Homo sapiens: one gene and its partner. The protein of the gene in region 1 purifies or fractionates together with the protein of each later gene. This does not show direct contact. Each region holds a gene or a part of one and is shown on either strand. Other genes may lie near its edges. The genes, in order: LLGL1 and TIMM13.

Region 1 (9,506 bases):
GGGTTTGGGGCAGGGCCTAAGCCAGTTAGTAACAGGAAGGGTCCCCTGGCCTCTTCAGTTGTGGGTGGGAGACAGGCCTTTCTGTGCATAGGCAGGGTTGAGGGCAAGGAGGGTCCCATGGGCTGTGCTTGGTAAGGCGCTGGCAGCATGCCCCAGCTGAGTGAGAGTGTGGGGCATCTCTCTCCCCAGCCCTGCCTGAAATAGCTGGAAAAGGGGAGTACCAACCCAGGGATGGATTCCTGATGCCTCCCAGCTTCTGCAGATGGGGGTATCTGGGGCCCTCCTGCGAAGTCAGGAGATGTCTGAGCGCTGGCAGCGGGATTCCTAGGAGGGGCTCAGCGGGGAGCTCCTGGTCCTGGCTTGGGCAGTGCCCTGGTTCCTGCTGTCCTCTCCTGGTGGGTGGGAGGAGCTGGGAGCCCAGTCTGCAAGACCTAGGGACCCTATTTTTATCCATCTCCCTGCTGACATCCTGATGAATAATTGAGCGGGCTGATGATGATGCATGTCTTCCTGGGGTGGCTCTGTAAGTAGGCCCTGGTGAGTGCTGTGGGGCCAGTGATGAGTTATCAGCAGTGGCCCAGCCCCTCACACCCCACCTGAGCAGGTGGATGGGCTTGTACCCTCACTCCCTTCCCCTTGTTCCCTGCAGTGCTCCGCTCAGCCTTACCCGAGTCACAGTGGTCCTGCTGGTGGCTGCCAGCGACATAGCAGCCCTGGGCACTGAGGGCAGCAGTGTCTTCTTCCTGGATGTTACCACCCTGACCCTGCTCGAGGGGCAGACGCTTGCCCCAGGCGAGGTTCTGCGCAGGTAAGAGGCCGGTGGGCTTCCCAGCACCCACTGTGTGCCCGGGAAGTTCTGCTGGCTCACCTGCCTTCCTCCACAGCGTGCCAGACGACTACCGCTGTGGGAAGGCACTGGGCCCCGTGGAGTCACTCCAGGGACACCTGCGGGACCCCACAAAGATTCTCATTGGCTACAGCCGGGGCCTGCTGGTCATCTGGAACCAGGCCTCGCAGTGTGTGGACCACATCTTCCTGGGGAACCAGGTATGTAGGTGAGGCCTGTGTCCCCTCAGCCTGGGCCCCTTGTGCATGCCCACCATGGCTCATGCCTGCCTGCCTGCCTGCCCCTGCCTGCCCGCAGCAGCTGGAGAGCCTATGCTGGGGGCGTGATAGCAGCACTGTGGTCAGCTCACACAGCGATGGCAGCTATGCTGTCTGGTCTGTGGATGCCGGCAGCTTCCCAACGCTGCAGCCCACGGTAGCCACCACACCTTACGGTGAGTGCTGGGGACACCTTAGCCAGAGGGTGGTGATGGGAGGGGGCACCACTGAGCCAAGCCAAACTGGCTGAGGAGGGACTTCCCCGAGGGGGTGGTCTGGGGGCAGTGTGTCTCCCGCCGACTTCCCGGGGAGGCAGGAGGCAGCTGTAAGGTAGAGAGCAGTGGAGGGCAGAGCAGGAATGGCAGAATTGCTAAGAACCACCAGTGAGTCTGGTCTGACGCTGTCCCACCCCTCAGGCCCCTTTCCCTGCAAGGCCATTAACAAGATTCTGTGGCGGAACTGTGAATCTGGGTAGGTCGAGGGAGTGGGTGTCCGATGTGAGTTGGGTCTGGCTAGGGGGCTGGAAGGGTGGGCTCTCCCTAGGTTGTGCAGTATGTGCTCTGGACCCAAGTGGTTCATGGCTCGCACACCTCCCTCTGCACATAGGGGCCACTTTATCATCTTCAGCGGTGGCATGCCCCGTGCCAGCTATGGTGACCGCCACTGTGTAAGTGTGCTTCGAGCCGAGACATTGGTGACGCTGGACTTCACTTCCCGCATCATCGACTTCTTCACAGTGCACAGCACACGGCCCGAGGATGGTGCGTGCCCTGCCGTACCCTACCCTTTCCCAGCCCCACCTGGTGCCCTCTGCCACCTATGGCTGTGCTCACCCCATACTCCCTCCGTCCCACAGAATTTGATGACCCCCAGGCCCTGGCTGTGCTGCTGGAAGAGGAGCTGGTGGTGCTGGACCTGCAGACTCCTGGCTGGCCAGCTGTGCCTGCCCCATACCTGGCCCCGCTGCACTCCTCTGCAATCACTTGCTCGGCCCACGTGGCCAGTGTCCCCGCCAAGCTGTGGGCCCGCATTGTGAGCGCTGGCGAGCAGCAGAGCCCCCAGCCTGTCTCCAGTGCCTTGGTGTGTGCGGCGATCAGGGGGGTCTTACAGGGTGGAGTCTTGAGGAGGGGGAGAGTTTCAGTTCTAAGCCCGGAGGTCAGAATGTGCCATACTCGGGGTGAGAGGGAGAAGATGTTCGTCCTAACCTTGTGCATACATCTCTGCCACCCCCTCCCAGAGCTGGCCCATCACTGGGGGCCGAAACCTGGCCCAGGAGCCGTCACAGCGAGGGCTGCTGCTGACGGGGTAGGTGTGCGTGCTTATGTGGGTGAGTGGGCCCCTTGCTGTTGGGGGAGAGCCCATCCTGGGCCTGGTGGGTGCAGAGGTGCCAGGAGACTCAGGCCTGGCCCCTGGTGGGACCAGGTAGTTCCTCCTTGCCCAAGGTGGTTTGGAATGAAACCTCCCTGGACCTTGGTTCAAGGTGCTGCCCTGATCTGCCTTTTGGCCTGGAACTGAGCTCTACCAAACCCCAGGGCTCCACCCGCCCAGCCTGCCTGCCCTGGGACTGGAAAATCTGGGCTGGCCCACGCTGAGCTGCCCAGGGAAGGTGCCAGAGAGCCCAGCGTGGGCCTGGCGGGCGCTGACGTGCCCAGTGACTCAGGTCTCAACTTCCTGCCCTGCCCCCACTCCCGCCTGTGCTGGGACCCTCAGGCCTCTGACTCTGGTGTGCCCTTCCCTGCTGAAGAGCTTGCCGTGGCTTTCAGGGCTGCTGGAATGAGTCTCAACCACCCCCACAGTCACACACCTCTCACGCCCTGGCTCTGGGCTTTCACCACCGCCTGGGGCCCTGCTTGGACTCTGCAGCTGTGTCCCAAGGCTGCGCCCTAGATTTGTCTACTCCTTCCCCTGCCCCCTCCCTGCTTTCTCCCGGCCTCTGTAGTCTTCCTGCTCCTCCACCTACGTGGCTGCCTTGGGCCCCATGCAGCTCCTCCCCCGGGATGCCCCATGCTCTGTTCTGTGACTGCCTTACTCTTGATCACCTCTGATGGCTGCTCCAGTGCAGGCAGAACCCCCAAAGTCCTCTGTTCTCTACATGTCCCCCTTTGCCACCTCCTGTTAATCAGGGTGGTCATTTCCACCTTGTTTGGTTTAAAGGCTCCAGGTGCATATGGTGCATGTGGCCTGGCCTATAACAGGTGCACAGTGTACCTGTGCTGTCTACAGTAGGTGCCTATTGTTTTTTGTAAAAGTAGGATTCCGGTCAGTGTTTGGCACGTGCAGTAGGTGCTTAGTGAGTGGTTATCAGATGAGTGAATGGAGGGGCGTGCAGGCCTCCCAGGAACTCGGGTAGCCCTGACATCTGCCCTCCCTGCAGCCATGAGGACGGCACCGTGAGGTTCTGGGATGCCTCGGGTGTGGCGCTGCGGCCGCTCTATAAGCTGAGCACAGCTGGCCTCTTCCAGACAGACTGTGAGCACGCTGACAGCCTGGCCCAGGCTGCCGAGGACGACTGGCCACCCTTCCGCAAGGTGGGCCCCTCCCCTGGCCCTGATGAGCTGGTCCTGACCCCGCCTGGACTCATTACTCCTTCCCATCCCTCTAGGTGGGCTGCTTCGATCCCTACAGTGACGATCCCCGGCTTGGCGTGCAGAAGGTTGCTCTCTGCAAGTATACAGCCCAGATGGTGGTGGCTGGCACTGCAGGCCAGGTAGGGCTGGGTGTCCCCTGGGTTGGAGATGTCAGGGAGGGCTTTCTGGAAGAGATGAGCTGGAGGGTCTGGTGGAAAGGGAGATGGACTGGCACAGGCAAAAGCCAAGGTGGGAATAGGGCTCTGGGTGGGGCTGGCTGGGGTGAGGACAGATGGGAAGTGGGCCTGTCGCTGGGGGAACCACAGTGTTGAGAGGAGGGAACTCATGTCAGTGCTGTGCTCCGGCACTCACATGACATACAGGAGGTGCTCAATGTGTCCTTATTGCTAAATGGGAGATAGAGGCTCAGGGTAAGGGTGGACACTTTGCCCTCAGAGGGCAGGGACTAGTGTGTCTTGGTCACCACTGTGTTCCTTGTGCTCAGCCAGGGCCTTGGTATACAGTAGGCATTCAGTGAGTGCTTGTTTAGCTGATGAACTGAAGACAGTCCTAGAACCACCTTGGTGGTGGCTGGGGCTGCTTCAGAGGCTCCAGGCTGAGTGGGGCCCAGGGCGGCCCCTCCCCTGCGCTGATGCTCCCCCTGCCTGGCTGTGGGCTCAGGTGCTGGTACTGGAGCTTAGTGATGTGCCGGTGGAGCAGGCGGTCAGCGTGGCCATCATAGACCTCCTCCAGGACCGCGAGGGCTTCACATGGAAGGGCCACGAGCGGCTGAGCCCACGCACGGGGCCGCTGCCCTGGCCTGCTGGCTTCCAGCCCCGTGTCCTGGTGCAGTGCCTGCCGCCAGCTGCTGTAACCGCTGTCACACTCCACACCGAGTGGAGCCTCGTGGCTTTTGGCACCAGTCATGGCTTTGGCCTCTTCGACTACCAGCGCAAGAGCCCTGTGCTGGCCAGGTGTGTGGGGTGGGGCCGGCTGGGCAGTTGGAGCCCCCAGCGAGATGGGGTCTGGGCTTCCGTTTCCACCTCTAGTGTTTGGTGTGGCAAAGGCCACTAACCTCCATTGCCCTATAAGAAATAACCTGGCAGCTCCAAGAAGGACATTCTCAGTACCACCTGCAGCTGGGTCCATAGGACTGCGCCAGAGGGGCTGTGACTCCCTGACCTGGGTGCCTCCACAGGCCAGCAGGAGTGTGGTGGCTGCCCCAGGAGGCTGCTCTATAGCACGACTGGACCCTGTCTTCCCCCAGGTGCACTCTTCACCCCAATGACTCCCTGGCCATGGAGGGTCCGCTCTCCCGGGTGAAGTCTCTCAAGAAGTCACTGCGCCAGTCTTTCCGGCGCATTCGCAAGAGTCGTGTCTCTGGCAAGAAGCGGGCTGCTAATGCCAGCAGCAAGGTGAGCTGGGGTGGGCTGCACAGGAGCTGTGCCTGTGTCCTGTGCCTTGGCCTGGCTCTGGCCTGGGACCCCTGGGGCCTGCTTAGCTCAGTGCTCCTCCCTCGGCAGCCCCTGGGCCCTCCAGAGGGATGGGTGAACTAAGCTGGGTGGTAGAGGAATGGTAACAGAACGTAGGGCGCAAAGCAGGATGCAAGCCACTGGGGTGCTAGGGAGACAGTGTTCAGGAGCCCCCGCCCGGCAGTTGCAGGAAGCCAATGCACAGCTGGCTGAGCAGGCCTGCCCCCACGACGTGGAGATGACGCCCGTGCAGCGCCGCATTGAGCCCCGCTCTGCCGATGACTCCTTGTCGGGTGTCGTGCGTTGCCTATACTTTGCCGACACATTCCTTCGAGATGGTAAGGCAGGGGCAGGGGCAGGGACAGGGCAAGGGTTGGGGGGGCTGGCCTCAATTGGCCACCTGGGAGATGGGTGGTGGCAAGGGAGGTGGTGGGACTGCACCTTCCAGGAGGTGGCTGGGCACGGTGGCTCAAGCCTGTGAGTGATCCCAGCACTTTGGGAGGCCGAGGTGGGCGGATCACCTGAGGTCAGGAGTTTGAGACCCGCCAGGCCAACATGGTGAAACCTCGTCTCTACTAAAAATACAAAAATTAGCCAGGTGTGGTGGCGGGCGCCTGTAATCCCAGCTACTTGGGAGGCTGAGGCAGGAGAATTGCTTGAACGTGGGAGGCGGAGGTTGCAGTGAGCCGAGATCGTACCACTGCACTCCAGCCTGTGCAACAGAGTGAGACCTTCTCAGAAAAAAAGCTTACCATCCAGCTCTCCCAGGGGGACTGCTGGGTCACCCCCAGTCTCTCTGGGGGAGCTGGATGGTAAAGGATTTTTGAGTGAGCTGGGTGGGCCTCTCAGATCTGAGCCAGGAGAAGGGAGGTTGAGGCCTGGTGGATGACGGTGAGGGGCACCAGCCAGTGCCCAGGCCCCGAGCCGGGCATGTGTGTGGGCAGCTGCCCAGCCACTTGGCTGGAGTGGAGCAGGTGAGGGTCGAGGTGTGTGGTTCAGGGAGATACTGCTGCTGGCCAGAGGCTGAGGACCTGGCTTTGATTCTCAGTGGCCTGGGAGCCCTGGGAAGGTCCTGGATTTGTTGATTGAGTCACTGATTGATTTTGAACTTGTACAATGGGAGAGTTTCAAACATACACAAAAATAGAGAGGTGCAAAGTTGTCCCACATACCTCACATGCCTGCCACCAGCCATGTGCCCCTGCGGATTCTGCCCCCCTCCTCCACATTCTTTGCTGTTTTTTTTGCCGGGGTATTTTAAATGAAAACCCAGATACAAGTACTTCAGCATGTTCCTGACAGATGTCACTGACAGCCACTGCTCACATCATGCCCTGTAGAACCAATGTGAATTCCTGAGTGTCATCTGCTTGGTCTACGAGCTCAGCTTTCTGATGCCATTTATTTGTCGAGGGTCTTTGTGCAGTGGATTTTCTCACTGTCTGGATGTGGCGGGTGCAGCTGGGGGTGGGGGGTTCTTTGACTTTTTGTTTTTTTTGACTACAAAGACCTAGAAGAGGAGAGCCTGGGGTTTTTAACTTGTTCCACTGGCCCGAGAAGGCCGATGGGTTCATGTTCATGGCCGGCTGGGGTTCCTGTTGGGCATGTTTTGAGTTGTGCAGACACTTAATGCCTCAGGATCCATCGGGTCATCAGGGAGCAGGTGCCGAGTCTGCTCTTGCTTCTGCTGGGCTGGGCTCTGATTCTCCACTAAAGCTTGTCACCCAGAGGTTCAGTTCACACAGGCAGAGCAGGGTCGATGGATGGTCGTCCTAGGTGTCCCCAGGCTTGGCGGCTTCCTCTGGCTGCCACGTAGGGAGCACACTGAAGACAGTGGGGGTGAAGCAGGGCTAAGACAAGGCACACCTGTCGACAGGACTAGCAAGGGGACGCAGGGGTGGAGAGAGGAGTCGGGGTCTTGTGGGGCTTGGGGCCTGAGTGATGCTAGGATGGAGCTGCGTTTACTGAGATGGGGGCTGAGGGTGCAGTGGGATGGGGCTGGAGGTCTGGTTTGGGTGCCCATCAGCATTCTGTGCAGATGCGCTACAGCTGTTCGGGCCTCTGCAGGAGGGCTGCATCCTGGGCTCCGACTGCAGTCAGCAGCATAGAGCTGGGGTCTCAGGCCTCGAGGCTGGAGGTCACCAGGGAGGCATGGGGCAGGAGGGAATCAGCCCTGAGTCCCAGGGTGTCATAGTTAGGAAGCAGGGCTACAAGAGAGGCAGGGAGGGACCTGCAGTCTGTGGGAAGACCCCAGGGGAGATGCCTGGCCCACAGGGAGCACCCTCCTACGCGCTTGTTTTCTGCAGGGGCCCACCACGGGCCCACCATGTGGGCTGGCACCAACTCAGGCTCTGTGTTCGCCTATGCACTGGAGGTGCCGGCAGCAGCAGTGGGTGGTGAGAAGCGGCCTGAGCAAGCGGTGGAGGCCGTGCTGGGCAAGGAGGTGCAGCTGATGCACCGGGCGCCTGTGGTGGCCATTGCCGTGTTGGACGGGCGTGGCCGCCCACTGCCCGAGCCCTACGAGGCCTCACGGGACCTGGCGCAGGCACCTGACATGCAGGGTGGTCACGCTGTGCTCATCGCATCTGAGGAGCAGTTCAAGGTGAGCCACTGTGGGCTGTGGGGGACTCTGGGGGACTCCCCTCCAGGCCCCAACCTCATGGACACCATTGGACCCTCAAGAAACCCTTCCTGCCTGTATCCCCCACTGTTGGGACCCTAATTCCCTTGCACCCCAGAAAACACTCCCAGCCAGCAGAGAACTCCTACCCAAGAACCCTGATGCCCCCTCAGCCTGCTGAGTTCCCCTGGGAGGGCAGGAATCTAGTCCTATCTCACTGTGCCACACAAGGCTCCTGTACTGGGCCCAGACCCCTGAGCCCAGTCCCCAGGGGCTCTGCCTCGAAAGAACTCGAGGTTTGATGGGGATACCAGCTGCATAACCTTGGCATAACTCTGTGATTGATTTTGTCACAGATCGAGAGAGGGCCTGGGAGGTTTCTGGAGTACAGTGTGAAGTCTGGAGTTTAGTGGGGCAGCCAGGTGTACAGGCACGGGAGGCCACGTAGCATGCAGCTGGGCTTTGTGGTGGGGGCTGTTGGGTCAGCAGCCACGAGGGTGAGGGGCCCTGGGGACGAGGACAGGGCCAGGCTTTGTGCTCACCAGCCACCTGCTGTCAGGTGTTCACACTGCCCAAGGTGAGCGCGAAGACCAAGTTCAAGCTGACGGCCCATGAGGGCTGTCGTGTGCGCAAGGTGGCACTGGCCACGTTTGCCAGTGTGGCCTGCGAGGACTATGCTGAGACCTGCCTGGCCTGCCTCACCAACCTGGGTGACGTCCACGTCTTCTCGGTGCCTGGCCTGCGGCCCCAGGTGCACTATTCCTGCATCCGGAAGGAGGACATCAGCGGCATCGCTTCGTGCGTCTTTACGCGCCATGGCCAGGGTGAGGCGGGGCAGAGGCCGAGGAGGCCTTCCTCAGGCGAGCGAACTGAGTGGGACCAGTACTGCTTGGGAGCAGGAAGGGCACTCCAGGTGGGCACAGGCCCAGGCCACGGAGGAGCTGTGGTTGGTGGTATCTTCTAACTGCACTCCTCATTCTTCTGCCCACCCAGGCTTTTACCTGATATCCCCATCAGAATTTGAACGCTTCTCCCTAAGTGCCCGGAACATCACAGAGCCGCTCTGCTCTCTGGACATTAACTGGCCCCGCGATGCCACCCAGGCCAGGTGTGTGGAGGGGCAGCTCCTAGCCTGGGGGACCTGTGCCCAGGGCCAGGTCTCATCCCACCCCCGAGATCTGCCTTCCCTGGGCTCAGGAGTGGGAGGGCAAGGATCTAGCGTGCCAGCCTCAAGTCATCCACCTATGGTCCCCATCATGGCCCCATCTCTGCAGTTACAGGATCCGAGAGTCACCCAAGCTGAGCCAGGCTAACGGGACCCCAAGCATCCTGCTGGCCCCACAGAGCCTTGATGGAAGCCCTGATCCAGCCCACAGCATGGGACCTGGTGAGGGGGGCATGAAAGGGGTCCAGACCCTGGCCCCACGGTGCCCTGGGGGAGGGAGTCGGGACTCACATAGCTCAGGGATCGGGCAGGCTTCTGTAGGAGATGGGTGGTTGTGTGCTCACTGGTGCCACCCCTCACCATGGGCTGCCTTATGGGTCTGTGTCCCTAGGCCCCCAGGTGCAGAGGGTGCTAAGGGTCCTGGTAGGGGCTGATGACTTGCTCCCTGTAGACACCCCGGAGCCACCCGAGGCTGCACTCTCACCCATGTCCATCGACTCAGCCACCAGTGCTGACACCACGCTGGACACGACAGGGGACGTCACAGTGGAAGATGTGAAGGATTTCCTGGGGTGAGG
Region 2 (15,055 bases), on another chromosome or scaffold:
GACTTGGCGGGGGTGGGTGGGGATGATGGTGGCACCAGGCACCGTCTCAGAGCGGCTGCCGCAGTCATAGAACCTCCATGTGCTGGTGTCACCCCACTGGGCCTCCCTGGAGCCTGAGTGGTGTGCCCTGGGTCTGAGTCCAGGCTGCTGGGGCTGGCAGGCGTCCCCGTGAAGTGTTAACAGTCAGGCGCATGGGCCATGGAGCCTGGTGGGTGTCAGATCCCAGTTCAGCCCCTGCTTGCCAAGAGCCCTTGGCCTCTGTGAACCCTGGTCTCTTCTTGTGTATCCTGGGGACCATCACCCTGGATAAGCCTGCGTCGGGCTGGAAGGACTGAACGCCCAGGGCATTGAAGGGGGCTTTGTGGTAGGGGCCACTGGCTGGCCCACGTCCCTGGAACCAGAGGTGACCCTGATGGGGCCATTGTTATTGGGTCCTCAGGTGTGGGCAGCTGGTGCGGGGGTGGCCCACAGCCCCCCCTCGACGCTGGTGTGGAAGGGCCAGAGCAGCTGGGGCACGGGCGAGAGCTTCCGCACCGTCCTGGTTAACGCGGATGGCGAGGTGGGTGTGTGTGGCTTGGGGGGTGCTCGGCTGGAGTCCTGGGCAGGGTCTGGGCACCCTCGGGGCCGCCACAGCAGCTCTGGGCCCGATCCCGGGACATGCCGCCGTGTCCTGTCCCGCACAGGAAGTGGCCATGAGGACTGTGAAGAAGTCCTCGGTGATGCGTGAGAATGAGAATGGGGAGGAAGAGGAGGAGGAAGCCGAGTTTGGCGAGGAGGATCTTTTCCACCAACAGGTAGGACCCCTGTGCCCACTTGCGGCTGGGGGGCAGCCTCTGGGGCAGAGTGAGCTCGTGCACACACATACACATGCGTGCTGGCCGCATCCCCGACGGGAGCTCCATCTGGCTGCCGTGGCTCAGGGTGAAGCCAGCCTTGGCTGTTACCAGCACGGCAGAGACCTGTTCTTGCCTCCTGGGTCGTGCCCATCGTGTGAATTTGCGACATCACAGACCTCAGGGTAGCTGGCCAGGGGGTCCCCTGAGAGGTGGGTGTTGAACAGCTCCCCAAATGCTCTCTGGTCAACCGGCTTCCTCAGTCGAAGACACAGGTCCCTTCAATACTGGCTTCTGGGGAGAAGATGAGTGCAGAAACCACAGCTGCATTAAACGCGTGCGTCGCAAGTTCCTGTGACTGTTTTGGAACCCAGAACAGAATGTGTAGCTCACAGGCGGGCTCATGGGGACATGGAAGTGGAATGGAAGGCTCTAGAAATAGACACTGTTGTTGCTCAGCCCCTCCCTGGTGGGGAGGTGGGGGCAGCCATCTACCTGCCGGCTGCCTCCAGGCTGGCCCTGATCATGGCCGACCTTCCTTCCTTCCTTCCTGCAGGGGGACCCGAGGACCACCTCAAGAGGCTGCTACGTGATGTGAACCCACACTCCTCATCCACACACCTTTCTTTACCCAGAGCCACTGAAAACTATTTTTATATCATTGGCTTTCTTTAGTTCTTGATACATTTCTAGAGAATTTCTAAGCGAACTGCCAGAACGTGTGGGTGGGTCTCCCCCAGCCCTCCCTCCTGGCGGGTCTCCTCCAGCCTCACTTCGCTGCCACTTCGCCGCTGCCCCGGAGACTTTTCAATCCCACCCCACTCCTCATCTCACCATTTGGTCAAATTGGAAGCCCAGGGCCAGGACCCGGAGGTTTAGAAGATGCTTGGGCTTGGAGGGAGGAGGGCCGGCGAGGCTAGCGAGGGGACAGGAGACGGCCCTGCTGCGGACGGAGCGCGGAAACTGCGTAGGAATTCAGTGGTGGTGGGTTTTTTTAAGGCTTTCTACAAAACCAAATTCAGAATCCAGGCGTCGACCTGGTGGGGCCCGGGGCCAAGCCTGCATTCTGGCTGCCCAGCTTCGGACAGCGGGAACTCCTCAGGCAGCCACGCAGCGGGTGTGGGCCAGCATGGGGATGGCGTGGCCCCCAGGGCGGGTTTTCACTCCGCTGCCTGGGCTTCCAGATTCCCGTTCTGGCAGCGCACCGGCCGGGTTTCTCGGACCGTTGACTTTATTTGGGGGAGTTTTCCCGCAGTTCAGTTCCTGACTGTGCAAGGCCAACAGGGCAGGGGAGGGGAAGACCTGGGGAAGGAAGAATGAGGACAGTCCCGTCGTAAGACCTGTCACAACAATAAGCAGGGAGGGGAGATGTGGAGGGGACACATCTGGTTGCCTTGGAGGCAGAAGCTGTGAGTTTCAGAACAGCTGTCTGCAGGGAACGCCACCATGTTGACCCTCTGGAGGAGAGCGCTGTGGAGCCCCTCCCGTGTTCCAGCTCCGTCTGCCCTGTGCCTATATATACACATGCGTCTATCCATACTGTGCTTTTATCTGTGATTTTCTCGCTGAAACCATGTTTCTCAGACAGGCCAAGGCCACCTGACTCCTATCACGACGCACCCAAGCCCCTCAGTCCAGCTTCCCAATGCCTGGCACCCCCCTTCGGCAATAGCTCACCGTTTACACCCTCCCTCATAGATACACAGAAGTTATTTTTTTAATGGATATTTATTTTTTTACATTGGTCAGTACACAGGTCAGGAGCTCACGCCAGGGCCTTGAGGACAGGCTGACCCTCCTCCCCGGGGTGGCGTGGGGCTGGGGCACCCTCCGACGGCAGAGCCTCCTTCAGAAAGTGCAGCTCAAGTCTTAAAGACACCAAAACTGAGCCATGGGCACGCGCCGTCTCCGGGCCATGGCGTTCACTGCAGGGCGGGGGCGGCACCGCTCCCCTGTGACTGCATCCCGCCTCCCTGGGGACCTGCCTGTGGCAGGAAGGAATGGGGGGCCCCAGCCCCAGGCCGGGAAGGAGCCAGCGGCCGACAAAGCAGAAACACCCGCTGCTCCACGTAGCCCCTGCTCGCTGTCCTTGCTCTCAGAAGTCCCGGTCCCATGTAGATAGAGGGGGGCGCATCTTACCAAAGCATTTCCTCCTGGAGGCTACGCCGCTGTGCTCCCAGTCAGGCGGCTGGTAGGGAGCTTTGCCTGCCCCGGGGATACCCTCTGCCAGCCGCTGGAAGTGGGAATGCTGGCGACAGACTGTGTCCTCTTTCCCACCTTCATAGCAGGAATCACCCGGACCCGACTGGCTGGGCTTCGTGCTAGCGAGGGTTCTGGGGGTGGGTCTTGGTGATCTTGTCCTATGGGGAGTCTGCAGTGGTCTCAGCCACATCCTATGTATTTTGGCTCTGGAGGAGCAAAGCTGTATCCTGGAGTTGGTCTGTGATTTGCCGACAGCCTTGCAGGCTGGGCTCAGGGACAAAGTCCCCCCCAAAACCCGCAGGTCCTCATGTCCAGACGCTGCCCAGTCCTGTCCTGAAAACAGCACGCCCCAGGCCCACAGAACCCCCCACCCTACATTTGCCTTGGGTGGAGCTGGGGGTGGTCCTAGGACTGCGGGTGCCCTTAGCTGAAGGGGGTGGGGAGAAGCGTGGACTGGGCAGCCTGTGGGTAATTGGAGGTTCATTGAGAATTGAGTCTTTGGAAACACTAAGAAAATCAAATTTTTAAAAGTTATTTATGGCCTGGGAAACAATTTGCATTTGTCCCCAAATACGCTTAGCTGTGTGCCGCTTAGAACGATGCGAAACCATCCCTCTGTGTAAGCCCGTGCCGTGTGACTCGAAGCCTAGCGCCCTCCCTGCGAAGCATCAGACGCCACCCAGCCCTGGGGGGAGGCCCACGCCTGCTGGACCAACGCGGGTTCTGGGGTGCACAGCGCCAGGTTAACGCTGAAGCCTGCCCCGCTGAGCCCAGGAGCCGGGAGGCCTGCGGGCTGACCCAGAATCCGATCATGCACCTGTCCTCATGCCAGCGGCTTTGGCTGGGGTTGGTCTGAAGCCTGCACGCGGCAGTTCTTTGTTAAAGATCTGAGGGACTCCTCAGTCCTGGGGCGTCGCCGCCTGCAGCCTCTTCCAAGCCCTGCGTCCAGCGAGCGTCACAGCACAACCTGCAAAAACGGAGCTGGGCTGCAGCTGGGGCTGGCATGGACTTTCATTTCAGAGATTCGGTTTTTAAGAAGATGCATGCCTAATGTGTTCTTTTTTTTTTCCAATGATTTGTAATATACATTTTATGACTGGAAACTTTTTTGTACAACACTCCAATAAACATTTTGATTTTAGGTTCTGCCTCTGAGTTTATTCCTGAGGGGAAGCTCGAGCCGGGGCCTCTGCCCTAATGAAGCGGATGTCTAAGAAAGATCCCTCCACCCCCAAGGAAAAAGGTCACTGGCTAGTGTAGCTAGTGTAAACAGGACCCAGGCGATGCATGGGACCCTGCCCTTTTTTTTCTAGTGAGCCTCCGACGCTGTTGCACAAGCTGACTCTTCGTCACGTGATGCGACCGGGCTCCGCCCCGGCGGCAACACGCTGTATAGACGCGCCGGGTGCCTCGTGCGCATGCGCGGCAGGCCCTTCGGGACGAGCTGGAGGCAGAGCGTGAGTACAAAGTGATCGGCCTCGGCCGCACGTAGTAGCCCCCCTACTCCCCGGCCAAGTCAGGGCCTCCCTCTTCCCGCGGAGTCGCAACCACGGGTAGCTCGTGTAGGTAACGGCAGGTCCAGGCCTCCGCATGAGCGGAGGGCCCCCCGCGCGACCTTGAATGGCCCGGGCGCGCGCGGTCGTGTGGGAGTTGTAGTCCTCCGTCCCCGTCCGCGCGGACTCCGTTTCCCGTGGTGCCCCGGGCGGCCCGCTTCCGGCGCAGTTAGTTACGAGTCGGCGCACGCGGCCTCGGTCCGGTTGACTTTGCGGAGCCATGGAGGGCGGCTTCGGCTCCGATTTCGGGGGCTCCGGCAGCGGGAAGCTGGACCCAGGGCTCATAATGGAGCAGGTGAAAGTGCAGATCGCCGTGGCCAACGCGCAGGAGCTGCTGCAGGTGCGGGGCTGGCCGGGGACGGGCGCTGGGGGCGACAGGGCCACCCCTGGGGGCCGACGTCGCGGCTAAAGCCTCGCGTGTCTCCACAGAGGATGACGGACAAGTGTTTCCGGAAGTGTATAGGGAAACCTGGGGGCTCCCTGGACAACTCCGAGCAGGTGAGACCCGCGGAGGTTCGGGGCAAGGGTCGCGAGGGCCTAGATTCGAGGGGGGAGGTGTCTGCGCGTGCGCAGACTAACGGGGAGGTGCGACGGAGTGGTCACTGCACGTGCGTAGTCTGCAGCCCGGGCGTCCTGGAGCCGGGGTCAGGGCGGTCCCCGGGGCCGCGAAGTCCCGAGCTGAGCCGTGCGCCCCTCCGCTCCCGCAGAAGTGCATCGCCATGTGCATGGACCGCTACATGGACGCCTGGAACACCGTGTCTCGCGCCTACAACTCGCGGCTGCAGCGGGAACGAGCCAACATGTGACCGGCGAGCGCGGGCCACCCCACCCTGTTCATTTCCATAAACGTGCTTTGAGAGGCGGGGTCCGCATGTACGTACTGCCTGCCCGGGGCTTAGGAGGGTGGCACCGGTGCTGGGACACACGGGACTGTGTCCTCGCCACCCCCCGCCCTGCCCCCTGCCAGCCAGTGCAGCTTGGATCTCGGGGGTGTGGGGCCCTGTGCCTTCCTGAAGTGCTGGCAGCCCAGTGGCACCTCCTTCAGGCCTTTGGGGTATTCCCCTAGTGTGCCCAAGTCAGCCTCATATTCTGGGCGGACAGCTTGTCTGGACTTCGGAGTTGGGGGTGGTCAGACACCACAGGAGCTGTCACCTCCTGCGGATGGGCAAATAAATTGGTGGAGGACGGAGAGAAACCTCTTTATTTCCCTCCTGAGGGGTCTCTGGGAAGAGGTGACGCGTGTCCCTGGAACCCCAGCTCGGAGGGTCTCAGCCTCCCCTGGGTTGGGAGAAGTCCATCTTTCCCCTTAGTGCCACCGGGCTGCTGAGTCACGAGGAATGTGTTGCTGCTGCCACCCCTGCCCCAAAGGCTAAGGGGGACAGCCTTCCCCTTGTCAGGGCTTGCTTTGACCCTGCTTCGTTCCACCCCGGGTCCTGGTGGAGCACCAGGCAGGTGGTCCTCGCTGTGACACTGAGGTGCTGAGCCAGTGAGCTAGGGTGGAGGGGCTGTGTTTATTGGAACAAAGGGTGGTACCAAAATGCATCCCCATGACCCACAGCCCCCCCACACCCGTCCTTGGGTAGGGTACGGTGGGGTGGGGTGTTGGGTGGCCTGCTGCTCCTGTTGCTTTCACGTAGAGTCTCGGCCTGGGCAGTCACGTGGTGGTCACTCCTGGATGTGCTGTCCTATCCAGCCTCTCACAGCTGCCACCCGGGTATAGACACCTGGGAAGTGGGGCCGGCCACAGCCATAGCCCCAGCTAGTGACCCCAGTTAGCACCCACCGTCCAGAGGGCTCCCTGCAGGCCAGGGGTCCCCCAGCGTCACCCTGTTGGGGAGAGAAGAAAGGGGGTTCAGAGGCCGGTACCTCCCCTACAGCAGCCCTTGGGTCATTGGCCCCTCTAGGAGTGACCCTAGTGACTTCCCCTGGGAGCCGCATTTTCACTATCTGGAAAATGGGCTCAATGCAAAGGTGGCAGACATTTATGGACACCCGCCACGTGGTCCCGGAGTGGAACGGTGCCTCCCACTGCAGCCTCTGCCTGCTCTGCCGCCGAGGCCCGGGGATGGGATGCGGTGGGTTGCCCAATAAACGGCTGTGGAGTGGAAATTCCTCCAGAGCCAAAAAGGCTCCCTGCTTGATCCGCTGGAGAAGCCTGCACCGGAGGGTGGCTCCCGGATGGTGGGCTTCGTGGCAGCGGGAACCCGCCCTCCCCGGCGGCTGGGCGGGACCTGGTCCCCTGGGCCGGGGCGGGGCTCACCGAGCAGCTGTCCACGCCACCCTGCGGGAAGCCGGCACACAGCATGCGGCTGCTGATCTGCACTGGGTAGAAGCGGCGGCAGGTCTGCTCGCTGAGGAGGCGCACGGCCGCCTTCTGCAGCTGCCGCGCCATGGAGCCTGCGGGCGGGCGAGCGAGACGGGGCGGGTGGGGACCGCGTCCGGCCGCCCCCCGAGCCCCGCACCACCGCGGCCCCGGGCGCGCCTACCTCCTTCGCGCACCGAGCCCCAGCCGGTGATGACGCAGCGCGTGCCGTCCGGGGGTCGCGGCGCGGGCTCGGGCAGGCAGATGGGACGCACCAGGCGGCTGCGACGCACCGGCCCCGCCAGCTCCAGCAGCGCCACGTCGTAGTCGAGCGTGTAGAGATTGTAGAACGGGTGCTTGTAGATGCGCGCCACGCGCTCCAGCTGCCCCTCCGCGCCGCTCAGGAACGGCGTGCCTAGGAAGGCCGCCCACTGCTTGGGGTCCCCGTAGCTGCGGGGCGCGCGAGGACAGGCGTCGGCCCGAGCCCCCACGCCCCCGGCCCCCGCCCCTGTGGTGTCCCCCAGCGGCCGGCTGGCACCCTGGGCAGGGTTATTGGCCTCTTGGTCTCTGGCTGTCGGTCTGGGAATGGGCTCAGTCTCCCCCATCAGGCACCGAGGCGGCACCGGGAACTGCAGCCGTCACCACCTAATATGAGCGCTCTGAAAAGGGGTCTAGTGGCCGTGCGAGTCCCGCCCCCCGCCTGCCCTCCCCTTCTGACCTCCAGCCCTGCAGAGCCCAGAGCTGGGTGTCCCCTCTGGAAAACCGGACCCCTCGACTGCCAGGGCTTGGGCCCTGGGGAGGGCAGCTTTCTACTGGGTGGGCTTTGGGGGGCTGGAGCCAAGTCCCAGGGGCGAGGGCTGGGGAAAGAAGTGACCCCAATGTTCCCGTGGGCTTAGCCTGGAGCTGGAGGGGGGGGGCCGCAGCTTCCGGGTTAGGTGGGGACCGCGGGGTAGGACTCGGCCTTCGCAGCCCCAGCCCCGTGTGGTCAGGCTAGGGGGTGGGTGGTCAGGGGAGGGCTGCAGGGAGCGAGGATGGGGAGATGGGGGGTGGGAGGAGTGGCCTGGGGCAGTGGGAGCCGGGGTTGGGGAGGGCACTCCCGGCAAAGGAGGGGGTCAGGGTGCGTTTTCGGGCAACAGTTCGGTTCCGGGTGAGCTACAGAGACATGTAGGGGCATTTGGAGCGTTTGGAACTCACACGTCGAAGCAGTGCGCCGCCGACAGCAGCCACCTCTCTGCCACCAGCACGGCCCCGCAACGGTGTTCCCGGCGCCGCAGCCACAGGCTCACCTGCCACGGCCACTCCCCACGGCCCGCTGCGCTGCCGCCCACAATCCTGGTGAGCGCGGCCGGCGCCAGGCCACAGTCTGCGGGGGAGCCAGGCGCGTGGGCAGGCGGACCCAGGGCACCTCCTCCACGAAGGCCCCCCTGGGCGCCGCCTCTCCACGAATCCCCCTGGGAGCCCCAGGGAGTAGGTTGTGATGGGGGACCTATCCCAGGAAAACTCAGCAGGAAAGGACACTGGGCCTGCTGCTTGGTCTTTGGGCTTTTCTCAAATAACATTGGAAATGCATTTGTTTCCTATGACTTCAGTTTTGGGACCATACGTTTCCCCTGCCGGAGGCCCCTCTCATGGCAGCCTCCCACATCTCCGTCTTCCAGGAGTTCCCTCCCACCCCAAGGCCTTTGCACACACCAGGGCCCCGCCCCAGAGGCCCCAGCCCTGCCTTGGTGCCCTCTGCCTGGATCCCTGATCACCTCCAAGCCCTCCCCAGACGGTGCCAAGCGCAAAGGCCTTCCTCAGAACCCAGCTGTGGAAAGAACACGTGGGTGGTTTCCAGGGGGTTTCAGGGACCCTGTTACCACCCATGGAGGGGGTCCCATACCCACCTGCTGTCTCCAGAGGCGTGTTTTCCTCCTCAGGGGCAAGCCCCCCCGCCGCCCTCTATCACCACCCAGCTGGCTTCCCTGGGTCCCCCCCGCCCCCCACCCCCCACCAACCGCCATCCAACCCGCAGCAGCTACCAAGGCCAGTAAGGGGAAATGCCAGTTCCCCACCAGCCTTGGCACCGTCTGGCCCTGACATAAGACCAGGTGGCCTTGGATAATCTGACAGCAGCCGCAGCCGCTGTCCTTGGGAACACCAGCTACCTCCACACAGAACCCGCCTGTATTTTGAGGGGGGCCTTCTCCACCTCTTTTGGGCCCAAAGAGATCCCACGCCATAGCTATTGAAAAAGTCAAAATCAGCTGAGACTGAGAAAGTGAGAGCCCCCAGGCTGCAGGGACAGACCTACATGAGGGCAGCTGCCAAGTTAGCAAGAAACACGCACCCAAGGACATGGCACAGCTGTGAACCATCAAAGTCCCTGCTTTCATTTTTTTTTTTTTTTTTAATTTTTTTAGAGACAGGCTGTGTCACCCAGGCTGGAGTATAATGGCATGATCTCGGCTCACTGCAGCCTCTGCTTCCTGAGCTCAAATGATTCTCCTGTCTCAGCCTCCCCAGTAGCTGGAACCACAGGCATGCACCATCACGCCTGGCTTTTTATTTTTATTACTATTATCTAGCTGGAGTCTCACTCTGTTGCCCAGGCTGGAGTGCAATGGCACGATCTCGGCTCACTGCAACCTCCACCTCCTGGGTTCAAGCGATTCTCCTGCCTCAGCCTCCCAAGTAGCTGGGATTACAGGCACCTGTCACCATGCCTGGCTTTTTTTATTTATTTTTTTGTAGAGATGGGGTTTCACCATGTTGGCCAGGCTGGTCTGGAACTCCTGACCTCTGGCGATCCACCCGCCTTGGCCTCCCAAAGTGCTGGGATTACAGGCATGAGCCACCGCGCCCAGCCAGAGAGGCCGTTATGTCTTTTTCTTTTTTGAGACGGAGTTTCGCTTGTTGCCAGGCTGGAGTGCAGTGGCATGCAGCTCACTGCAAGCTCCGCCTCCCGGCTTCATGCCATTCTCCTGCCTTAGCCTCCCGCGTAGTTGGGACTACAGGCGCCCACCACCACGCCTGGCTAATTTTTTGTATTTTTTTAGTAGAGACAAGGTTTCACCGTGTTCGCCAGGATGGTCTCGATCTCCTGACCTCTTGATCCGCCCGCCTCGGCCTCCCAAAGTGGACGACGTTATGTCTTGTTAGGCAGCCCAGGCTGATTAACATGGGACCCTCCACTCCCAGGGATCCCTCCGTCTCTCCCGGTACCTGGTAGCTGGGTGTGTGTGGTGGCCTCCGGGGCGTCTGGAAATGGCGTCTGTCCCCTAGCAGTGGTGCTCACGGCAGATAAGGTTGAGTTGGCAGGTTGGCCCGTCACCCTGCTGGCAGCCCCAGGGGTGGGTCTGCTGGGTGTGGCCCCCGGGACTGTGAGGCCAGCTGTCGTCCTGGGGCTGGTGGTGGCCAGCATCCTTGTGGTCGAGGGGGGAGACATGGGAAGGGGCTGGGAGGACATGATCTCCAGGATCCAGCCCTTTAGCCTGGTGATGCGCGTGTACACGCCCGGCTTCTTAACCTGAGCGCAGCCAATACCCCAGCTCACGATCCCTGCCAGATAAAACACGCCAGGGGCCTCCTCGCAGGCCAGGGGGCCCCCAGAGTCACCCTAGAAAGGAAGGAAAGAGCACTGGTTGGTCCTCCAGGGACCCTCTCTTCCCAGCACTGCCATACCCTCCTGCGTTCCTACAGTGGGTGGGAGCCATCGAGGGCGGGGGGCAGAGGGCACAGCGCGGGTCTGGAGACCTGACTGCAGCCCCATGCCTGGCTGTGTGACCTGGAGTGAGTCACTTCTCCTCTCTGAGTTTCCATCATTCTTGCTTTTGTTTTGAGGAGGTAAAACAATGCAGAAAAACTCTAAAAATAATAACAATAAGGCCAGGCGTGGTGGCTCACGCCTGTAATCCCAGCACTTTAGGAGGCTGAGGCAGGCAGATGATGAAGTCAGGAGTTCCAGGCCAGCCTGACCAACATGGTGAAACCCCGTCTCTACTAAAAATACAAAAATTAGCTGGGCGTGGTGGTGGGCGCCTGTAGTTCCACCTACTAGGGAGGCTGAGGCAGGAGAATGGCGTGAACCCGGGAGGCGGAGCTTGCAGTGAGCTGAGATCGCACCACTGCACTCCAGCCTGGGCAACGGAACAAGACTCCCTCTCAAAAAAAAAAATAAATAAATAACAACAATAACAGCCATGAATAGTCCCACCATCTAGAAGTAGCCCCTGACCACTAGCTGCCAAGCTTATTTCTTTTCTTGAGGCAGAGTCTCGCTCTTGTTGCCCAGGCCAGAGTGCAGTGGGATGATCTCGGCTCACTGCAACCTCCACCTCCTGGGTTCAAGTGATTCTCCTGCCTCAGCCTCCCGAGTAGCTGGAACTACAGGCATAAGCCACAACGCCCGGCTAATTTTTGTATTTTTAGTAGAGATGGGGGCTTCACCACGTCGGCCAGGCTGGTCTCCAACTCCTGACCTCAGATGATCCACCCGCCTTGGCCTCCTAAAGTGCTGGGATTACAGATGTGAGCCACCTGGCCTGGCCTCAACATTCTTTTCAAGATAAAAAGCTAACTATTGTGAATCGCCCATTTATATAGAGAATAAATAGTATAATAATAGATACTATAAATACCTATTATTCTATTTTTATTGTCAGATATAAAGAACAAATATAATGAATATATAGGAAGAAAAGACTATGCAAGACACCGATCTCACAACACTCCTAGAAGACAGGCATTGCTATGCTTCCCACTTTACATATGGGGATCAGAGTCCCAGAGAGGTTAAGGCACTTGCCTGGGGTCACACAGTAGTTGAAGCAGGATTTGAACTCAGAAGTCTGATTGAAGAACTTGGGCTGGGTAGGTTCCCATTGCAGGTTATTTACCACCTTCCTTTTAACTACTGTGTGTGAATGGGCATTTACACTGTCATTGATATTTTGTATTGATTAGTAATAATGGCATCTAACTTTGAGAGTTACTATTGAAATCTGATGCCATTTTTTTTTTTTTTTTTTTGAGGTGGAGTCTCACTCTGTTGCCCGGGCTGGAGTGCAGTGACATGATCTCGGCTCACTGTGACCTCCGCCTCCTGGGCTCAAGCAATTCTCCTGCCTCAGCCTCCGGAGTAGCTAGAATTACCAGCACCCGCCACCATGCCTGGCTAAATTCTTGTAGTTTTTTAGTAGAGACAGGGTTTCGCCATGTTGGCCAGGCCAGTCTTGAACTGCCTACCTCAGGTGATCTGCCTGCCTCGGCCTCCCAAAATGCATGCCACTGCACCCGCCCTTCGTTTTTTGAGATAGGGTCTTGCTGTGTCGCCCAGGATGGAGTGCAGCTGTGTGATCACAGTTTACTGCAGCCTAGACACCTGGCCTCAAGAGATCCTCCCAGTTCAGCTGCCCAAGGAGCTGGGACCACAGGCACCTGCCACTCTGCCTGACAAATTTTTTTTTTAAATTTTTGTAGAGACGGGGTCTCACTATGTTGTCCAGACTGGTCTTGCAATCCTGGCCTCGACTGATCCTACCTCAGCCTCCTGAAGCACTGGAATTACAGGCATGAGGCACTGCACCCAGCCTGAAAATTAACCTGTCTGTGTGTGCACGGTTGAGCCCTTCAGAAATCTGGGCATGGTGGCTATGGCCGGGTGCAGTGGCTCAGGCCTGCCATCCTAGCAGTTTGGGAGGCTGAGGCGGGCGGATCACCTGAGGTCAGGAGTTCGAGACCAGCCTGGCCAACATGGTGAAACCACGTCTCTACTAAAAATACAAAAATTAGCTGGACGTGGAGGCACATGCCTGTAGTCCCAGCTACTCCAGAGGCTGAGGCAGGAGAATCACTTGAACCCAGGAGGCAGAGGTTGCAGTGAGCCGAGATCACGCCACTACACTCCAGCCTGGGCGACAGAGTAAGACTCCATCTCAAAAAAAAAAAAGGAAAAAGAAAAAGAAATCTAGGCTGGGTACAGTGGCTCACGCCTGTAATCCTAGCACTTTGGGAGGCCCAGGTGGGCAGATCACGACATCAGGAGATCGAGACCATCCTGGCCAACATAGTGAAACCCCGTCTCTACTAAAAATACAAAAATTAGCTGGGCATGGTGGCGGGCGCCTATAATCCCAGCTACTCGGGAGGCTGAGGCAGGAGACTCGCTTGAACCTGGGAGGCGGAGGTTGCAGTGAGCCAAGATCGCACCACTGCACTCCAGCCTGGGCGACAGAGCCAGACTCCGTCAGAAAGAAAGAAACAGAGAGAAAGACAGAGAGAGAGAGAGAAGGAAAGGAAAGGAAGGAAAGGTAGGGAGGGAAGGGAAGGAAAGGGAGGGAGGGAAGAGAAGGAAAGGGAGGGAGGGAAGGAGACGGTGGGAGGGAAGGGAAGGAGAGGGCGGGAGGGAAGGGAAGGAGAGGGTGGGAGGGAAGGGAAGGAGAGGGCGGGAGGGGAAGGAAAGGGAGGGAGGGAAGGAAAGGAAAGGTAGGGAGGGAAGGGAAGGGAGGGAAGGAAAGGGAGGGAGGGAAGGAAAGGAAAGGTAGGGAGGGAAGGGAAGGGAGGGAAGGAAAGGGAGGGAGGGAAGGAAAGGAAAGGTAGGGAGGGAAGGGAAGGAAAGGGAGGGAGGGAGGGAAGGAAACGGAGGGAGGGAAGGAAAGGGAGGGAGGGAAGGAAAGGAAAGGTAGGGAGGGAAGGGGAGGGAGGGAAGGAAAGGGAGGGAGGGAAGGAAAGGGAGGGAGGGAAGGAAAGGAAAGGTAGGGAGGGAAGGGGAGGGAGGGAAGGAAAGGGAGGGAGGGAAGGAAAGGAAAGGTAGGGAGGGAAGGGAAGGAAAGGGAGGGAGGGAGGGAAGGAAACGGAGGGAGGGAAGGAAAGGGAGGGAGGGAAGGAATGGAAGGAAAGGCCAGGGAGGGAAGGAAAGGGAGGGAGGGAAGGGAAGGGAGGGAGGAGAGGGAAGGAAAGGGAGGGAGGGAGGGAAGGAAAGGTAGGGAGGGAAGGGGAGGGAGGGAAGGAAAGGGAGGGAGGGAAGGGGAGGGAGGGAAGGAAAGGGAGGGAGGGAAGGAATGGAAGGAAAGGCCAGGGAGGGAAGGAAAGGGAGGGAGGGAAGGGAAGGGAGGGAGGGAGGGAAAGGGAGGGAAGGAAAGGGAGGGAGGGAGGGAGGGAGGGAAAGGGAGGGAAGGAAAGGAGGAAAGGAAAAGGAGGGAAGGACAAGGAGGGAAGGAGGGGGGGAAGGAAAGAAAGGAAAAAAATCTAGGTCTGCACACAAAGAACTGCTGGGTGAACGGCTGTGGGCATTTCATGGAAATATTGCCCGCTTTCCCCCTTTGAATGCTTACCTGGCAGGAGTCGACTTTGCCTTCCAGGAAGCCTGCGCAGATCATGCGGTCTGTGAGGGAGAAGTTGTAGAGCACACTACAGGTTTTCTGGTCTATGATGCCCACGGACGCCTTCTGCAGGAGCTCGGGCTTGGTGGCTACCAGGGAAAGAGCCAGAAAGGCCACGTGCACAGTGATCATCAGAGCAGCTCCAGTTCCGCTCCGATAACAGCCCCGAGATGCAGCATCCCCACCCCACAGACGAAGAAACCAGGGCTCACAGAGTTGCAGGAATCTCACAAAGCCACAGAGTGAGGAGGAGGTGGGCCTGATGGCCCGCTCAGAGCGCAAGAGTCTCCCCACTGTCCCCATGGGGCTGCCGCCCTAGCACCTGGGTAAGGTGTAGGAGGCCATTCTGAGGTCAAGGGAAGCATTAACTGTTGGAGTGGGAGGGGTCTCGGGATAGACTAGCGCAAGCAAGCACCAGTGAGCATTTGCTTTTTTTGTTTTTTGAGACAGGGTCTTGCTCTGTTGCCCAGGCTGGAGTGCAGTGGCATGATCATGGCTCACTGCGGCCTTGAACTCCCAGGCTCAAGTGATTCTCCTGCCTCAGCCTCCTAAGTAGCTGGGACTACAGGCATGTGCCACCATACTCGGCTAATTTTTTATTTTTCTATTTTTTTTTTTTTTTTTGAGATGGGAGTCTCGCTCTGTCACCCAGGCTGGAGTGCAGTGGCACAATCTCAGCTCACTGCAGCCTCTGCCTCCCAGATTCAAGCAATTCTCCTGCCTCAGCCTCCCGAGTAGCTGGGATTACAGGCATGCATCACCACACCCGGCTAATTTTTGTATTTCTAGTAGAGACGGGGTTTC

What was found.
Region 2: the proteins of LLGL1 (region 1) and TIMM13 purify together in Homo sapiens (co-immunoprecipitation; 2 studies listed by BioGRID and IntAct, with this or other methods). This does not show direct contact.

Annotation. Positions count from the first base shown.
Region 1 is NC_000017.11:18,233,129-18,242,634, forward strand, and holds part of LLGL1 (lethal(2) giant larvae protein homolog 1), read left to right. Parts: intron 1-649; coding exon 650-808; intron 809-884; coding exon 885-1,047; intron 1,048-1,144; coding exon 1,145-1,280; intron 1,281-1,520; coding exon 1,521-1,575; intron 1,576-1,710; coding exon 1,711-1,865; intron 1,866-1,960; coding exon 1,961-2,184; intron 2,185-2,341; coding exon 2,342-2,409; intron 2,410-3,478; coding exon 3,479-3,632; intron 3,633-3,706; coding exon 3,707-3,811; intron 3,812-4,352; coding exon 4,353-4,645; intron 4,646-4,938; coding exon 4,939-5,086; intron 5,087-5,327; coding exon 5,328-5,481; intron 5,482-7,449; coding exon 7,450-7,745; intron 7,746-8,322; coding exon 8,323-8,587; intron 8,588-8,756; coding exon 8,757-8,871; intron 8,872-9,037; coding exon 9,038-9,150; intron 9,151-9,319; coding exon of another isoform or gene 9,320-9,379; coding exon 9,380-9,500; intron 9,501-9,506. UniProt on the Homo sapiens protein: Cortical cytoskeleton protein found in a complex involved in maintaining cell polarity and epithelial integrity. Involved in the regulation of mitotic spindle orientation, proliferation, differentiation and tissue organization of neuroepithelial cells.
Region 2 is NC_000019.10:2,417,287-2,432,341, reverse strand, and holds TIMM13 (mitochondrial import inner membrane translocase subunit Tim13), read left to right. Parts: upstream 1-4,755; 5' UTR 4,756-4,808; coding exon 4,809-4,928; intron 4,929-5,017; coding exon 5,018-5,086; intron 5,087-5,295; coding exon 5,296-5,394; 3' UTR 5,395-6,253; coding exon of another isoform or gene 6,254-6,415; 3' UTR 6,416-6,717; downstream 6,718-15,055. Other genes in the region: LMNB2 (lamin-B2), read left to right, coding at 440-559, 684-794, 1,390-1,431; TMPRSS9 (transmembrane protease serine 9), read right to left, coding at 6,254-6,415, 6,849-6,985, 7,075-7,340, 8,085-8,253, 10,095-10,488, 14,204-14,340. UniProt on the Homo sapiens protein: Mitochondrial intermembrane chaperone that participates in the import and insertion of some multi-pass transmembrane proteins into the mitochondrial inner membrane.